Regions from separate parts of the Homo sapiens genome. Here region 2 is linked to region 1. The links come from fine-mapping of genetic effects on gene expression. Tissue or cell type: whole blood. Region 1 holds a variant in brackets; the other region holds the start of a gene. All regions are shown on one strand. Distances are from middle to middle.

Region 1 (8,100 bases):
ATAAAATCAGTCATTGCTGTTTTTGTATTAAAATTTTTTTCTTTTTTTCTTTTTCTTTTTTTTGAGACAGAGTCTCACTCTGTTGCCCAGGCTGGAATGCAGTGGCACGATCTTGGCTCACTGCAACCTCCACCTCCTGGGTTCAAGCAAGTCTCCTGCCTCAGCCTCCCGAATGGCTGGGACTATAGGCGCCCACCACCACGCCCGGCTAATTTTTGTATTTTTAGTAGAGACGGGTTTCGCCATGTTGACCAGGCTGGTCTTGAACTTCTGACCTCAGGTGATCTGCCCACCTCAGCCTCCCAACGTGCTGGGATTATAGGCGTGAGCCACCGTGCCCGGCCTTATTTAAATCAAGCCCCTGCCTTCTCTGTTAGAGAATATCGTGACTGTGATCAAGTATCAAGTACTTGAGCCCCTTCTCCTTTTTTCTCTTTCCTTGTTGATGGCACCAGCTCTCTGCTGGAGAATATCTTTTAGCGTTAAACACAAACAAAGAAACTAAGAACAACAACAACATCAAAAAGTGCAAGGCTGCAGTAAGCCCTGATCACACTGCTGCACTCCAGCCTGGGCGACAGAGCGAGACTGTGTCTCAAAAAAAAAAAAAATTCTTTTTATTTTCTGAGACAGGGTCTCGCTCTGTCGCCCAGGCTGGAGTGCAGTGGTGCGAGCCTGGCTCAGCCCATGGGGATGGTGGTGAGCTCCTCCATTTATTTATTTATCTGGAGTCTCACTCTGCCACCAAGGCTGGAGTGCAGCAGTGCAATCACAGCTCACTGCAGCGTCAAATTCCTGGGTTCAAGTGATGCTCACACCTCAGCCTCCCAAGTAGGTGGGACTACAGGCACACCCCACCATGCCCAGCTAATTTGTAAAAACTTTTCTGTAGAGATGGGGGATGGTCTCATAATGTTGCCCAGGCTGGTCTTGAACTCCTGGCCTCAAATGATTCTCCTGCCTCAGCCTCCCAAAGTGCTGGAATTACAGGCATGAACCACTGTGCTCTGCTGGATAATGACCTTTCTCGAGCAATTACTATGTGCTCTGCTGTATCGGGTACCATCTAGTTTGATCATATATTAGACATGCAAGATAAGCTTTATCCGCTCCCTCCCCCTTTTTTTTTTTTTTTTTTGAGACGAAGTTTCACTCTTGTTGCCCAGGCTGCAGTGCAATGGCACGATCTCAGCTCACTGCAGTCTCTGCCTCCTGGGTTCAGGAGATTCTCCTGCTTCAGCCTCCTGAATAGCTGGGATTATAGGCGCCTGCCATCACGCCCAACTAATTTTTTGTATTTTTAGTAGAGATGGGTTTCACCACGTTGGCCAGGCTGGTCTTGAACCAGCCTCAGCCTCCCGTGATCCACTGGCCTCGGCCTCCCAAAGTGCTGGGATTGCAGGTGTGAGCCACTTTGCCCAGCCAGCTTTCTCCCTCTTTTATGCTGACCACGAAGTGTCTGCCAAGAGTCATTCGTGCATTCCTCATTCATGCACTCAGTATCTTCTATGGGCCATGAAACTGTGTTAGACGTTGGGGAAACAAAAGTCTAAGACTTAGCCAGGGCCGGGCGTGCTGGCTCACACCTGTAATCCCAGCACTTTGGGAGGCCAAGACGGGCGGATCACAAGGTCGGGAGATCAAGACCAACCTGGCTAACATGGTGAAACCCTGTCTGTACTAAAAATACAAAAAATTGGCCGGGCGCGGTGGCTCACGCCTGTAATCCCAGCACTTTGGGAGGCCGAGGCGGGTGGATCACGAGGTCAAGAGATCGAGACCATCCTGGCCAACATGGTGAAACCCCATCTCTACTAAAAATACAAAAAATTAGTCGGGTGTGGTAGTGGGCACCTGTAGTCCCAGCAGCTACTCTGGAGGCTGAGGCAGGAGAATGGCGTGAACCTGGGAGGCGGAGCTTGCAGTGAGCCGAGATCACGCCACTGCACTCCAGCCTGGGTGACAGAGCGAGACTCCGTCTCAAAAAAAAAAAAAAAAAAAAAGACTTAGCCAGGCATGGTGGTGCGCATCTGTAGTCCCAGCTATGTGGGAGGCTGAGGCGGGAGGATGGCTTGAGCCCGGGGGTGCCAAGACTACAGTGAGCTAAGATTGTGCCACTGTACTCCAGCCTGGGTGACAGAGCGAGACCCTGTCTCAAACAAAACAAAATGAGAAAAAATGTCTAAGACACAAAGAATTGAATCAACACTGGGAAAGTGGGTTGTGAGTTATTTTCCAAGCACATAGGAGCCAATCTATACCCCACCCCAATTCTGGCCCAAACTCCATCCAGATTTTGTTGTTCTCCAGGGGGCTATATCAGAATTTTGGCAGAGAAAGAAGGGCTATGAAACATGTACTGAAAAACCTCTCCATATGTTTCTGATTTGTCAGGCAGGGAGAACCAGAAAACCTTCCTATTGAAACTCTTTGAAATGTTTAATACAATTAAAAAAAATTATTTTCAATGCCCAGTTGAGCTCCCATGAAAGAAAGGGAAATCCTAGGAATCCAGAAACAAAGAGGAAACTAAACGCCACAGATGATAGGCAATGAATTGATCACGTCTCTGCTCTGAATGGTCACTGAGGGTCAGTGGCCAGGAGCTTGCTTTAATGCCCGTGTCAGGTCAGGAGATGAGGCCCTAGGCTAGAGTTACTAGATAAAATAGGACATTATAGGATGTATGCACTTTTTTTTTTTTTTTTTGCAAAATATGGCTAATTTAAAAAAAAATTAAAGCAATATGGAGTAAATTAAGCTAAGGGCCCCCATGCGCATTAGAAGGATGGGGTGGAGATAGGAGAAATTCACACCTTATGTAAATGAAATGCCCAGCCCTCATTGGTTTCTTATAAAAGCTTTTGCATTCAACTGTAAAAATGGCCTCTTTTGGCTGGGCACGGTGGCTCATGCCTGTAATCCCAGTACTTTGGGAGGCCGAGGTGGGTGGATCTCCTGAGGAGAGTTCGACACTAGCCTGACCAACATGGAGAAACCCCGTCTCTACTGAAAATACAACATTAACTGGGTGTGGTGGTGCATGCCTATAATCCCAGCTACTCAGGAGGCTGAGGCAGGAGAATCACTTGAACCCGGGAGGTGGAGGTTGTGGTGAGCCGAGATCATGCCATTGCACTCCAGCCTGGGCAACAAGAGTGAAACTCTGTCTCAAATAAATAAATAAATAATAATGGCCTCTTTCAGACCCCCTCTCCACGGCAGAGAGCTTTCTTCTTTAGCTTATTAAACTTTCACTCCAGCCTCATCCTTGGTGCCCATGCTCCTTAATTTTCATGGTTGTGAGACAAAGAACTCCGAGTGATACTTCAGACAATGAGAGACTACTACATTGAGGTCCAGTTCAAATGGAAATTGTATCTGGACCCAGTTCAAATGGAAATTGTGCCTGAGATCCCTTTGAAATGTGATCCTTGAAAAGCCACACAGTCTGTGAAAGGGTAGACTGGAGATCATGAGTTCATCTACCTTGAGGAGTGACAAACTTGCCTGCCTCAGCCTGATAATTCAAAGAATTCAAAGCCCTGACCTGGCTTCACATATGTGTGGGTTTCCAGATCATTCCACAGAAATAGTTCAGCCACCTGCAAGCCCCCAAGTCAGAAATAAAGATATTCTTTTTTTTTTTTTTTTAATTGTTGTTGTTGTTTTGAGACAGGGTCTCACTCTGCCACCCAGGCTGGAGTGTGGCAGAACAATCTCGTCTCACTGCAGCCTCAACCTTGTGGGTTCAAGTGATCCTCCCACCTCTGCCTTCCAAAGTTCTGGGATTACAGGAGTGATCCCCCAAGACTGGCCATTATTCTTATTTTTTAAATAGAGATAGGATCTCACTTTGTTCCCCAGGCGGGTCTCAAACTCCTGACCTCAAGCATTCCTCCTGCCTTAGCTTGCCAAAGTTCTGGGATTTCAGGTGTAAGCCACTGCACCTGGCCAAGATATTCCTAAGGAAGAAAAGAAAGTGAGGAGTGGGAGAATTCCCCGAATCTATGCCCCCAGGCTGCAAGGGATTCTCAGACAATAAAATGAAAAACAGGCCG[C/T]GGGTGGTGGCTCATACCTGTAATCCCAGCACTTTGGGAGGCCGAGGCTGGCGGATCACAAGGTCAAGAGATCGAGACCATCCTGGCTAACACGGTGGAACCCGTGGGCAACAGAGCGAGACTCCGTCTCAAAAAAAAAGAAAAGAAAAACAAAAGCAAATGAAGAGTTTATGGTTAAGCAATGTCATACAAAATGTCGCCCAGGCTGGAATGCAATGGTGCGATCTCGGCTCACCGCAACCTCTGTCTCCTGGGTTCAAGAGATTCTCCTACCTCATCCTCCCAAGTAGCTGGGATTACAGGCATGCGCCACTGCACCTGGCTAATTTTGTATTTTTAGTAGAGACGGGATTTCTCCATGTTGTTCAGGCTGGTCTTGAACTCCTGACTTCAGGCAATCCACCTGCCTCGGCCTCCCAAAGTGCTGGGATTACAGGCGTGAGCCACTGTGCCTGGGCAGTCAACAATAATTTATTATGCAATTAAAAATAACTAGAAGAGCATAATTGGAATGTTTGTAACAAAGAAATGATAAATGTTTGAGATGATGGATACCCCATTTACTCTGATGTGATTATGATGCATTGTATGCCTGTATCAAAATATCTCATGTACCTCATAAATACATATACCTACCACATATCCATAAAAATTAAAAAAAGAGGCCGGGTATGGTGGCTCATGCCTATAATCCCAGCACTTTGGGAGGCCGAGGCGGGTGGATATCTTGAGGTCAGGAGTACAAGACCAGGCTGGGCAACATGGCAAAACCCCGACTCTACTAAAACTAATAATAAAAAAATTATCTGGGCGTGGTGGCACACACCTGTAATCCCAGCTACTTGAGAGACTGAGACATGAGAATTGCTTGAACCTGAGAGGCAGAGGTTGCAGTGAGCCGAGATAGCTCCACTGGACTCCAGCCTGGGCGACAGAGCGAGACTCTGTCTCAAATAAAATAAAATAAAATAAAATAAAATAAAACAAAATAAAGCTGAGCATGGTGGCTCATACCTGTGGGAGGCTGAGGTGAGCAGATCTCCTGAGGTCAGGAGTTCGAGACCTGCCTGGTCAACATGGTGAAACCCCATCTCTACTAAAAATACAAACAATTAGGCGTGTGGCGCATGTCTATAGTCCCAGCTACTTGGGAGGCTGAGGCAGGAGAATTGCTCGTACCCGGGAGCCAGAGGTTGCAGTGAGCCGAGATCATGCCATTGCCCTCCAGCCTGGGCAACAAGAGCGAAACTCCATCTCAAAAAAAAAAAAAAAAAGAAAAGAAAAAAAGAGGCCAGGTGTGGTGGCTCACACCTGTAATCCCAAACTCTGGGAGGCTGAGGCAGGTGGATCACTTGAAGTCGAGGGTTCCAGACCAGCCTGGCCAACATGGTGGTGAAACCCCATCTCTACTAAAATACAAAAATTAGTTGGGTGTGGTGGCGGGCGCCTGTAATCCCAGCTACTCGGGAGGCTGAGGCAGGAGAATCGCTTGAACCTGGGAGGTAGAGGTTGCAGTGAGCCAAGATCATGCTACTGCACTCCAGCCTGAGTAATAGAGACAGACTCCATCTCAAAAAAAAAAGAAAAAAGAAAGAAATGTCAACGCCCTTGAGGAAATAATTTAACCTGTGTCCCAACCCCCCTCACAGGTCCTCTTGACCAAGGAAGGCTTAGTGTGTCAAGGTGTTTACGGAAACCTTCTGACCAAACAGTGGCTGGGCACTAAGCAATGCTGATTCAGAGATGGACCCCTAGGAAGCCAGTCTTGAAAATAAAAGCAAGAATCACAAAACAAAACAGAGGCTTCCTTTAGTGGCTTCAAGTTATTAAACAACCAAACAGACAACCAGCAAACAACAACAATGTCAAAATCTACAACAGCTACCACCAGGACATCAGAATTTAGAATTACAATACATGATTTAAAATGTCCAGTTTTTGCTGGGTGCCATGGCTCACACCTGTAATGCCAGCACTTTGTGGGGCCGAGTCAGGAGAACCACTTGAGCCCAGGAGTTCCAGACCATCCTAGGCAACATAGTGAGACTCTGTCTCTACAAAAAATAAAAATAAAAATAAATTAGCCAAGTGTGGTGGCTGGAGCCTATAGTCCCAGCTGCTCAGGAGGCTGAGACAGGAGGATCACTTGAGCCCAGGAGGTTAAGCTTTCAGGGAGCCAAGATTGCACCACTGCACTCTAGCCTGAGTGACAGAGTGAGTGAGACCTTGTCTCAAAAATAAGTAAAATAAGATAAAATAAAATGTCCAGTTTTCAACAAAAATTTGAGACATATCTCATTTAATCCTCCCAACAGAGGAGTTTCTACCTCTCATTTGGGGAAAATAAGGCTCAGGGAGGTAAAGTAGTGTAAACCAAAGAAAATGACTGGCTGGGCATGGTGGCTCATGCCTGCAATCCCAGCACTTTGGGAGGCTGAGGCAGGAGGAACACTTGAGCCTGGGAGGTGGGAGGTTGCAGTGAGCTGTGATTGTGAAGCAGGATGTTGCCTAAGAACTAGCCAGCTGCTTTGGTGCTGGTAGGGGTGAACTCCACTCACTCACTACTCCACCCCTCACAGGAGAGGGAGCACAGGTGAGCAGGTGCAGGAGACGGGGCGAGAGTTTTTAGGCGCCAGCAAGAGCCATCTCCATACCAGCCCCATGATAGTGTCTAGCGGAGGGTGCCGGAGACTATTGAAGCCCCAGAGGCAGTGTTAGAGTACTCTTTTAGCTCTGCTGTCTGTGAATGGCTTAAGTGTTAACAGCTTAGTGGAGGATCGGTGTGACAGCCTTTTGCATCCACACTCGTGGCACCCAAGTTCTTTTTCAGTGTCCAGGAGGAATTAGGTCACACAAATGAATTGAAGATGGTAAATGCAGGAGACTTTATTGCTGATGAAAGTGGCTCTAAGCGGGAAGGGGAGCTGAAAAGGGGACAGAGCAGGAAGGTAATCTTTCTCTGAAGTCCAGCTGTCCCTGGCCATACTCCTCCAAAGCTACTCCAGCAAACTGTCCCTCTGAAGTCAAGCCACTTCTCTCCAATGTTCAACCATGGTCTTTGACGTCCAGCTGCTTCTCCTCTCTCTGCTAGCTGGGCCTGGGGTTTTTATGGGCACAGGATTGGGGGCAGGGCAGGTCAAGGGTGGTTTTGGAAAAGGCAACATTCAAGCAGGAAAGCAGCGATGTTGGCTGGGCACGGTGGCTCATGCCTGTAATCCCAGCACTTTGGGAGGCAAGGAGGGTGGATCACGAAATCAGGAGTTCAACACCAGCCTGGCCAAGATAGTGAAACCCCTTCTCTAATAAAAATACAAAAATTAGCCGGGTGTGGTGGTGTGTGCCTGTAATCCCGGCTCGGATTACTCGGGAGGCTGAGGCAGGAGAATCACTTGAACCCGGGAGGTGGAGGTTGCAGTGAGCCAAAATCGCACCATTGTACTCCAGCCTGGGTGACAGAAGGGGAGACTCCATCTCAAAAAAAAACCAAAAAACAAAAAACAGGGATGTCAGTTCTCACTTTGGGCTGCAGTTCCAGGTTTTTCAGCTTGAGGGCAATGCCCTCTCTGGGGACCCACCCTCTTCTGCCCAGAATTTCCCTGCCTCTTGTCCCTATCATTTGCACCACTGTACCCTGGCCTGGATGACAGAGTGAGACCCTGTCTCAAAGAAAGGGGAAGGGAAGGGAAGGGAAGAGGAGGGGAGGGGAGAGGAGGGGACTCAATGAATTTAGAGGTTTATTTTGCTAAGGTTGAGGACATGCCCAGGAAAAAGAGACCCAAGCCAAAGAAAAATCTGTGACCCATGGCTTTTCCAGAGAGTTTTGAGGACTTCAATATTTAAAGGAGAAAGAGTGGGCAGGAGGGGAAGGAGGAAAGAAATGAAAAAGGAGGGAAGGTGGCCGGGTGCGGTGGCTCACGCCTGTAATCCCAGCACATTGGGAGGCCGAGGTGGGCAGATCACGAGGTCAGGAGATCGAGACCATCCTGGCTAACACGGAGTGAAACCCCGTCTGTACTAAAAATACAAAAAAATTAGCCAG
Region 2 (8,100 bases), 64 kb after region 1:
CAGCCTGGCCAACATGGCAAAACCCTATCTCTACTGAAAATACAAAACTTAGCCGGGCGTGGTGGTGCACACCTGTAATCCCAGCTACTTGGGAGGCTGAAGCAGGAGAATCGCTTGAACCTGGGAGGCGGAGGTTGCAGTGAGGAGGGATCGCGCCACTGCTCCCCAGCCTGGGCGACACAACAAGACTGTCTCAAAAAAACCAAAAACCAAAAAATAAACCAAGGCAGAAGCCTAAAATAAAGTCCTAGTGGTGGATGTCTTGACCCCTGCTGGGCATCCCAGAAGCTTCACCTTCTACCCTTTTATGGAGTTTTCTCCCCTGAACCTTGCTGTTTGGTGACTATGCCTGTAATTCTCTCCCACACCATTTGTTTTTCTTTCTTTCTTTTTTAAAAATTGAGACTGGGTCTCGCTCTATTGCCCAGGCTAGAGTGCAGTGGTGCGATCATAGCTCACTGCAGCCTCCACCTCCCAGGCTCAAGTAACCCTGCCACCTCAGCCTCTTGAGTAGCTGGGACTACAGGCATGCGCCACCACGCCCGGCTAATTTTTTGTATTTTCAGTGGAGACAGGGTGTTGCCATATTGCCCAGGCTTGTCTCGAACTCCTGAACTCAAGTGATCTGCCCACCTCAGCCCCAAAAAGTGATGGGATTATAGGTGTGAGCCACCACGCCCCACCTCCACTCTACTTTTCTACCCAGGAAATCTCACATCCTTTGAGACCCCTGCTCTGGCCCTGCTCTGGCTCAAGGCAGGTAGACCCCTGCTCCTGGCTTCTCAGGATGGTCCTACTGGGTGACCTTCAGGTCCTCATGTACTCTTTATCCTCCGCCACAACCCTGACCCTACTTTCTTCCTACCTGTGGGTGTGTGTCTGGACACTGGGGCTGGTGTGACTGGGTTATGCATGTTCGCAAGCAGCCTGGAAGACACTGAGGGTGGCCTGGTTTCCCTTAAGGCCTGGTTTGTCTTCCCTCCCTGCAAGAGCATGAACACCCAGAAGGCAGGAGGGACATTCCTTCCAACTCTTCCCCCTGTCTGGGTGCCAGCAGGGGGCTGAATTGCAGGCACTGGCTCAATTGGAGGTCTCTCCCATCCTCTCTAAGATTTAGATCTCAGAGATCTAGGATGACAACAGAGGCCAAGGCGTTAGCTCACGCCTGTAAGCCTAGCACTTTCGGAGGCCAAGGCAGGAGGATTGCTTGAGGTCACAAGTTCAAGACCAGCCTGGGTCTCAATAGTGAGACCCTGTCTTTACACAAAATTTAAAAAATTAGCTGAGCATTGTGGTGTATACCTATAATCCCAGCTACTCGGGAGGCTGAAGTAGGAGGATCACTTTAGCCCGGGAGATGGAGGTTGCAATGAGCCGAGATGGCACCACTGCACTCCAGCCTGGGCAACAGAGCAAGACCATTTCGAAAAAAGAAAAATACATAAAAGAAAATAAAATGAGGCCAGGAGCGGTGGTTTATGTCTGTCATCCCAGCACTTTGGGAGGCTGAGGTGGGAAGATCACTTGAGGTCAGAAGTTTCAGACCAGCCTGGCTAACATGGCAAAACCCGTCTCTACTAAAAATACAAAAATTAGCTGGGCGTGGTGGTGCACGCCTGTAATCCCAGCTACTCCAGAGGCTGACACAGGAGAACTGCGTGAGCCCAGGAGGAAGAGGTTGCAATGAGCCAAGATCGCACCACTGTACTCCAGCCTGGGTGACAGAGCGAGACTCCGTCTCAAAAAGAAAAAAAAATAGATAAATAAAATGACAACAGGAAGGCCTGTAGGGATTTTCTAGTCAAAACACCTCATGTCATAAATGGTAAATTAAGGCCACGAAGTCACAATAGGGGACGGCACCAGGAGGCATATCCCGGCCTCCCCCATTCCTTGACCAGCCTGTCCTCTCTGGCAGGCCTTGTTTAGGGCAACACAGGCCCTGGGCACCCCACCCTACCTGAAGCAGTCTGCGTGCCAGTCCGCGTTCAGGGCCTGGAGGTACTGGCCATCATAGATCCTCTGGCCGCAGCTTGCACACACGGGCAACTCGCTTCCTGCAGGGTGGGAAGGGAGTTGGGAAGCATTCTCAGGAAGTGTGATCTGGTGCAGGCCCAGCTTGCCCTGCCCACCCCACATATACCTACACCTGCACCAATCCTCGCACACTGCACATGTGCAGCGCCCAGGCAGGGCAGTCGCTGTGCCAAATAGGAGAAGAAAGGGCGCTGGCCTGAGTCTTGCTGAGATACTGACTAGGTTGCCAAGCTTCTCTGGCCCTGTTTCCCTATGTATCAGCTTAGGAGGAGGATCAGGTCCATCCTCCCGCTATAGCATTGGATCTGGCAAGGTAAATGAGGAGAAAGGAAGCAGTGGCTTTAGGGATAAGGCAGTGGGTGACATTCCTATCACAGCCTCCTTTCTTCCCTCTCCTGCCCAGGAAGAAGTACTAAGAGGGCCCTTCAAAGGCAGGGACTGGACAGGGCTGGATTAGTGCATCCTGGGCTGAAGCCAGCTGGGAGGTCAAGGGCAGGAAGCCTGGAGGTGCCGGCCCTAACAGATCCTTGGCAATGAATGCCCTGGCTTGGCAAGGGGAGGGGGCTGCAGACCTGGGTACTCCCAGACACCTGTCCCAGGGAGGCCTGGCACCTCCTCTAGCCAGCCACAGGCATGCTTAGTCATCCTTGGGGCCTGGCACCCTTGGAGCTGGTGGGCCCTGGAAAATGCCCCAGACCTGCCCCTCTCCACTGTACAGAAGGGGAGACTGAGCCCCAGAGATGGCATGGCTTGCCCAGTCACATAGCTAGGTCCCAAGGCCACAACAGCCTGACCCTCTGTGAAGACGCAGGTACCTTAGGTAGGCAGGGGCTACAGGAAGGTGGGCCCCTACCCCAATCAGGTTTTCATGGGCCTGGGAAGAGTTGGTGGCAGGGGGAGGTGTGGAGTCAGGCCCTGCCTTGGGGCCAGGTGGATCTAAGTGACAGGTCAGCGAAGGAGATCCAAGGAGGGGCCCCCAGACCCTGTCCTAGGCTGGGGGAGTCCTTGAACCCTAACTGCAGTGCAGTACTGCGCCTTGGGCCCCAGTGAGGGAGAAGGGGCTAAAGAGGAGGTTAGGATGAGTCATGCTCCCAGCCAAGACTGAGGGCAGGCACCGGGTTTGGGGCACGGACAGGGAGAGTGGATGAGGCTCCCGCAGTACACGGCCTCCGGCTTCCTGGACGCCTATCTCCGCTCTACCCATCTGGCCCCCAATCACCGACACCGGGGGGGCAACTACCCAGTTTCCAAATGTACAGAAGGGGAAACTGAGGACCAGGAAGTCAGCGCCTGGCTCAAGGTCACAGAGCCGGGCAGGCGCCCGGCGGCCACTGGGACCCGGGGCTGCGGCTTCCCCAGCCGCTCTTTCTTCCGAGACTGGATAAAGGGTGGCCCCAGGGCGAGGCCCGGGTGGTGGACAGAGCACGCGGATGGAGGCCGACGCGGGGTGGGCAGTGTCTGGGAGTCCTTCGCGGGGGGACGTGGGAGGAGGAAAAAGGGTCCAGGGGCCCCCAGACCCGCAGGAGGGCAGCTCGCCGGGGGCCGGGGAGGGGGATCCCGGGCGGGAGGGGGACAGGGAGGGGCCTGCGGGCTTCGTAAGGACGAGCTCATCCCGGAGGAGGCAGGGGCGCGGCCTCCTGGCAGACCCGGCCCCCTCCCGTGCCCCACGCTGCCCCGGGCACCCCCTCCAGGCCCTCGCCCCACACCCCGCGGCCCGCGCACCTTCCTCTCCCATACGTTCTTCCCTCCAGGTGCAACAAAGTAGCGTCAACCTCATGCACTCGACGGGGGGCGGGGCCCGGCGGGGCTGGGGCTGGGGGCGGCCGGGCCCGCGAGCTCGCCCACCGCCGCCGGCCCGGGGAGGCGGGGGCGGAGGGCGCGGGCCGGGCCGGGCCGGGCCGGGGGCGCCTCTCGGACACCGGCGGGGAAACCGGCTCGGCGCCGCGGCGGCTTGGGGAGCGAGCGGAGGGGCGGACCGAGGCGGGGCCTGTGAGCTGCGGCACGGGGGCGGGGCGCGGGCGGCCGGCGGCGGGAACGGCCCTGCGCGGCCCCGCCCCCACCAGAAAACCCCGCCCCCACGCCCAAGGCCACGCCTCTAGAGGCCACGCCCCGCTGCGGCCCGGCCTGGGGGCGCCGCGAGCTGGCGCGGCGCGCCCCGCCCCTCCCCGCCCCTTCCGCCCTTCATTCATTCTTCTTTCTCCCAGCGACAGGCCTCGGCTGGGAGCTGCGAGGCCCAGCTGTCTCGGAGGGCCGCTAGCTCTGCTGGGGCAGGCCAGGAGGATGTAGGAGCCTAGAGAAGGGGCCTCCGCTTCCCTGCGCGAGGCCCCCACAGACCCAAACCAGCTGCAGCCGGGAACTCGGATCAGAGCTGGAGAGGCCCTGTGGACCCCCAGGACACTGGTGGTCGCCTTGGGGAGGGGAGGGAGGCGGGCCGGGTTTTGTCCCTCTCTCTGAGGCCTGCATTGAGGCCAGGCTGGGCCCGGGGAAGGTGACGGTCCGCGTCTCAGGCCTCGCGAATGAGCAGCACCAGAGAAAGGAGCGAGCCCCTGCCAGGCGGTGACAGGTGTACTCTTCTCAGTGCCGATTACCTGGAGCTGGGGCTGCCCTGCCCAGGGTCCTGGAGGGAGCACGGGTTTGGGCTGAGTCAAGCGTCCAAAGGAATTGGGTGGTCCAGTCCAGCACTGATGGTGGAACGCCCTGCCTAGATGTGGACAATTCTAGAATGCTGGACATGGGCAGGAAGCAACCCTGTCCCCCCTAGGTCTACCTTCCACGTCATCCCTCTGCCCAGGAAGCAGTGACCGGAGTGGAGCCACGTGCCCACGTGAACCCAGTGAACAAGAGGCAGCGCTAGCCCAGCTCCAACTCTAGTCATCATGTTTGTGGGGAGAGGTCTAGGCACGTCTGCAAAGTGGGGGGCACTCACCCCTGGGTGCAAAACAATTACGTGGGGTGGGAAGAAAATACTAGATTTTTTTTTTCTTTTTTTAGATTCGGTCTCGCTCTGTTGCCTAGGCTGGAGTGCAGTGGCGGGATCTCGGCTCACCGCAGTCTCCACCTCCCAGGTTCAAGCAATTCTCCCACCTTAGCCTCCCGAGTAGCTGATATTACAGGCGTGCACCACCATGACCGACTAATTTTTGTATTTTTAGTAGAGATGAGGTTTCACCATGTTGACCAGGCTGGTCCTGAACTCCTGACCTCAGGTGATCCACCCTCCTCGGCTTCCCAAAGTGCTGGGATTACAGGTGTGAGCCACCACGCCTGGCCAGAATTTTTAATTTCTCATGAGAAAGAAGGCTGGGCACAGTGGCTCACACCTATAATCCCAGCACTTTGGGAGGCCAAGGTGGGAGCATCACGTGGGGCCAGGAATTGGAGATCAGCTTAAGCAATGAAGTGAAACCCTGTCTCTTCTAACTTTTTTTTTTTTTGAAATGGAGTTTCACTCTTGTTGCCCAGGCTGGAGTGCAATGGTGCGATCTCAGCTCACAGCAACCTCCACCTCCCGGGTTCAAGCCATTCTCCTGCCTCAGCCTCTGGAATAGCTGGGATTATAGGCATGCACCACCATACCTGGCTAATTTTGTATTTTTAATAGAGACGGGGTTTCTCCATGTTGGTCAGGCTGGTCTCGAATTCTGGACCTCAGGTGATCCACCCACCTTGGCCTCCCAAAGTGCTGGGATTACAGGCGTGAGCCACCGCGCCCAGACTTTTTTTTTTTTTTTTAATTAGCCAGGCATGGTGGCTCATGCCTGTAGTTAGTTACTTGGGAGGCTGAGGTGGGAGGATACTTGACCTCAGGAGGTTGAGGCTGCAGTGAGCTATGATTGCACCATTGCACTCTAGCCTGGGTGACAGAGACCCTGTCAAAAAAGATAGGGAGGGAAAAAAAGGGGAAGGAAAGAGAGGGGAATGAGAGCCTTGTAACTTGGCTGTAGGGCATATACCAGGCAGGACCCTGGCTGGAAACAGAAAGTGCCACTTAGTGGGGCTAACTGGGGAGAGTTTGATAAAGGGGATGTTTGCAATGCACTGGGGAGGGGGGATTAAAGGAGATCAGTAAGGACTGGCACAGTTGGAGGGGTGGCAGCAGTTACCAGCCCAGGGTAAGGGGGCATAGAGGGGGTCCCTGGAGGAGAGGCCTGCCTGAGAGGAGCTGTGCAAGAGGGGTCCCCAGTTCTGGGGGACTCATGGGGAAGAGGGCCCAGAAGGGCTATTCTGATCTGACTCCCCTGCTCTTCTTATTCTTCCATTGCCTCCCGTTAACCAATCCCGTCTGGATGCAGCGGGCAGGGCCATGTTGATGCTGTGCCCACAGTGCAGGGCAGAGAAGTGCATAGTGGCCTGGAGGGGCTGTGAGCCTGAGCCAGCTTGGTTGAGTGATGTTATCCAGTTTTGACTAAATTAACCCTCACAGAATGGACTCATAGTTGAAAACAATTCCTGCAAAGAAAGCACAGATTGGGCCTGGCGTGGTGGCTCACACCTGTAATCCCAGCACTTTGAGAGGCTGAGGCGGGTGGATCGTGAGGTCAGGAGATCGAGACCATCCTGGCCAACATGGTGAAACCCCGTCTCTACTAAAAATACAAAAATTAGCTGGGCATGGTGGTACGTGCCTGCAATCCCAGCTACTTGGGAGGCTGAGGCAGGAAAATCGCTTGAACCAGGGAGTTGGAGGTTGCGGTGAGCCGAGATTGCGCCACTGCACCCCAGCCTGGTGACAGAGCAAGACTCCATCTCAAAAAAAAAAAAAGAAAGCACAGATTGAAGATGATGCAGACTGGGTGCAGTGGCTTATACCTGTAATCCCAGCACTTTGGGAGGCTGAACTGGGAGGATCGCTTGAGGTCAGGAGTTCAAGACCAGCCTGGGCAACATAGTGAGACCCCCTCACATCTCTTCGGAAAAAAAAAAATTATCTGGGAGTGGTGGTGTGCACCTGTAGTCACAGCTACTCAGGAGGCTGAGACGGGAGGATCGCTTGAGTCCAGGATTTGGAGGCTCTAGTGAGCTCTGATCATGCCATTGTACAGCCTGTCTCAAACAAATAAACAAAAAAAAAAAAAAAGAAGATGCTAACACACCCAGATGAGCGAAAAGATGGAGCTGGCACTTCCACACCTTGTAGGAGCTCCTTGTCAGCCACAGTTCCAGGTGAAACATCAGATCTGACATATTCAGTTACATTGCTCATGCAAGATTTTTTTTGCTGAAAGCAAAAAGGATTTTTGCTTTTTATTTATATTTATTTATTTATTTATTTATTTTGAGATGGAGGTTTGCTCTTCTTTCCCAGGCTGGAGTGCAGTGGCACGATCCCAGCTCATTGCAATCTCCACCTCCTGGGTTCAAGCAATTCTCCTGCCTCAGCCTCCCAAGTAGCTGGGATTACAGGTGTGCACCACCATGCCTGGCTAATTTTTTGTATTTTTAGTAGAGATGGGGTTTCACCAGGTTGGCCAGACTGGTCTCGAACTCCTGACCTCAGGCGATTCGCCCACCTAGGCCTCCCAAAGTGCTGGGATTATAGATGTGAGCCATCTCGCCTGGCTGCAAAAAGGATTTTTGGACTTTTTTTTTTTTTTTTTTTTAAGAGAGACAGGGTCTCACTCTGTCACACAGGGTGGAATGCAGTGGCACGATCGTAGCTCACTGCAGCCTCAAACTCCTGAGCTCAAGTGATCCTCCCACCTCAGACTTCTAGGTAGGTGGACCCACAGGCACACACGCCACGTCTGGCTAATTTTTATCTTTTGTAGAGATGGGGGGGGGTCTTACCATGTTGCCCAGGCTAGTCTCGAACTCCTGTGCTCAATTGATCCTTTCCACTTTGTGTTCCCAAAGTGCTGGGATTATAGGCATGAGCCACTGAGTCCGGCCTGATAAAAGTTTTTTGTTTTGTTTTTGTTTTTTTGAGATGGAGTCTCGCCCTGTTGCCCAAGCTGGACTGCAGTGGCGCTAACTCGGCTCACTGCAACCTCTGCCTCCTGGATTCAAGTGATTCTCCTGCCTCAGCCTCCCGAGTAGCTGGGATTACAGGTGCCTGCCACCACG

Evidence for each region. PIP is the estimated chance that this variant, and not a neighbour inherited with it, causes the effect.
Region 2: LIMK1 starts here. The variant in region 1 is fine-mapped to the expression of LIMK1 in whole blood (INTERVAL, PIP above 0.99).

Annotation. Positions count from the first base shown.
Region 1 is chr7:74,144,017-74,152,116 of GRCh38, reverse strand. No RefSeq gene overlaps it. Among named protein-coding and RNA genes, the nearest start is that of EIF4H, 26 kb to the left of the region's middle. The variant C/T (reference allele first, on the strand shown) is at 4,062.
Region 2 is chr7:74,079,705-74,087,804 of GRCh38, reverse strand. LIMK1 (LIM domain kinase 1) reads right to left here and starts at 4,001. Exons shown (of 16, transcript NM_002314.4): 1 at 3,760-4,001; 2 at 1,961-2,057. The coding sequence starts at 3,814. RefSeq lists enhancers at 1,479-2,076, 2,077-2,676, 3,188-3,457, 3,944-4,622, 4,518-4,627 and 1 more and silencers at 3,648-3,697, 3,808-3,857, 3,978-4,247.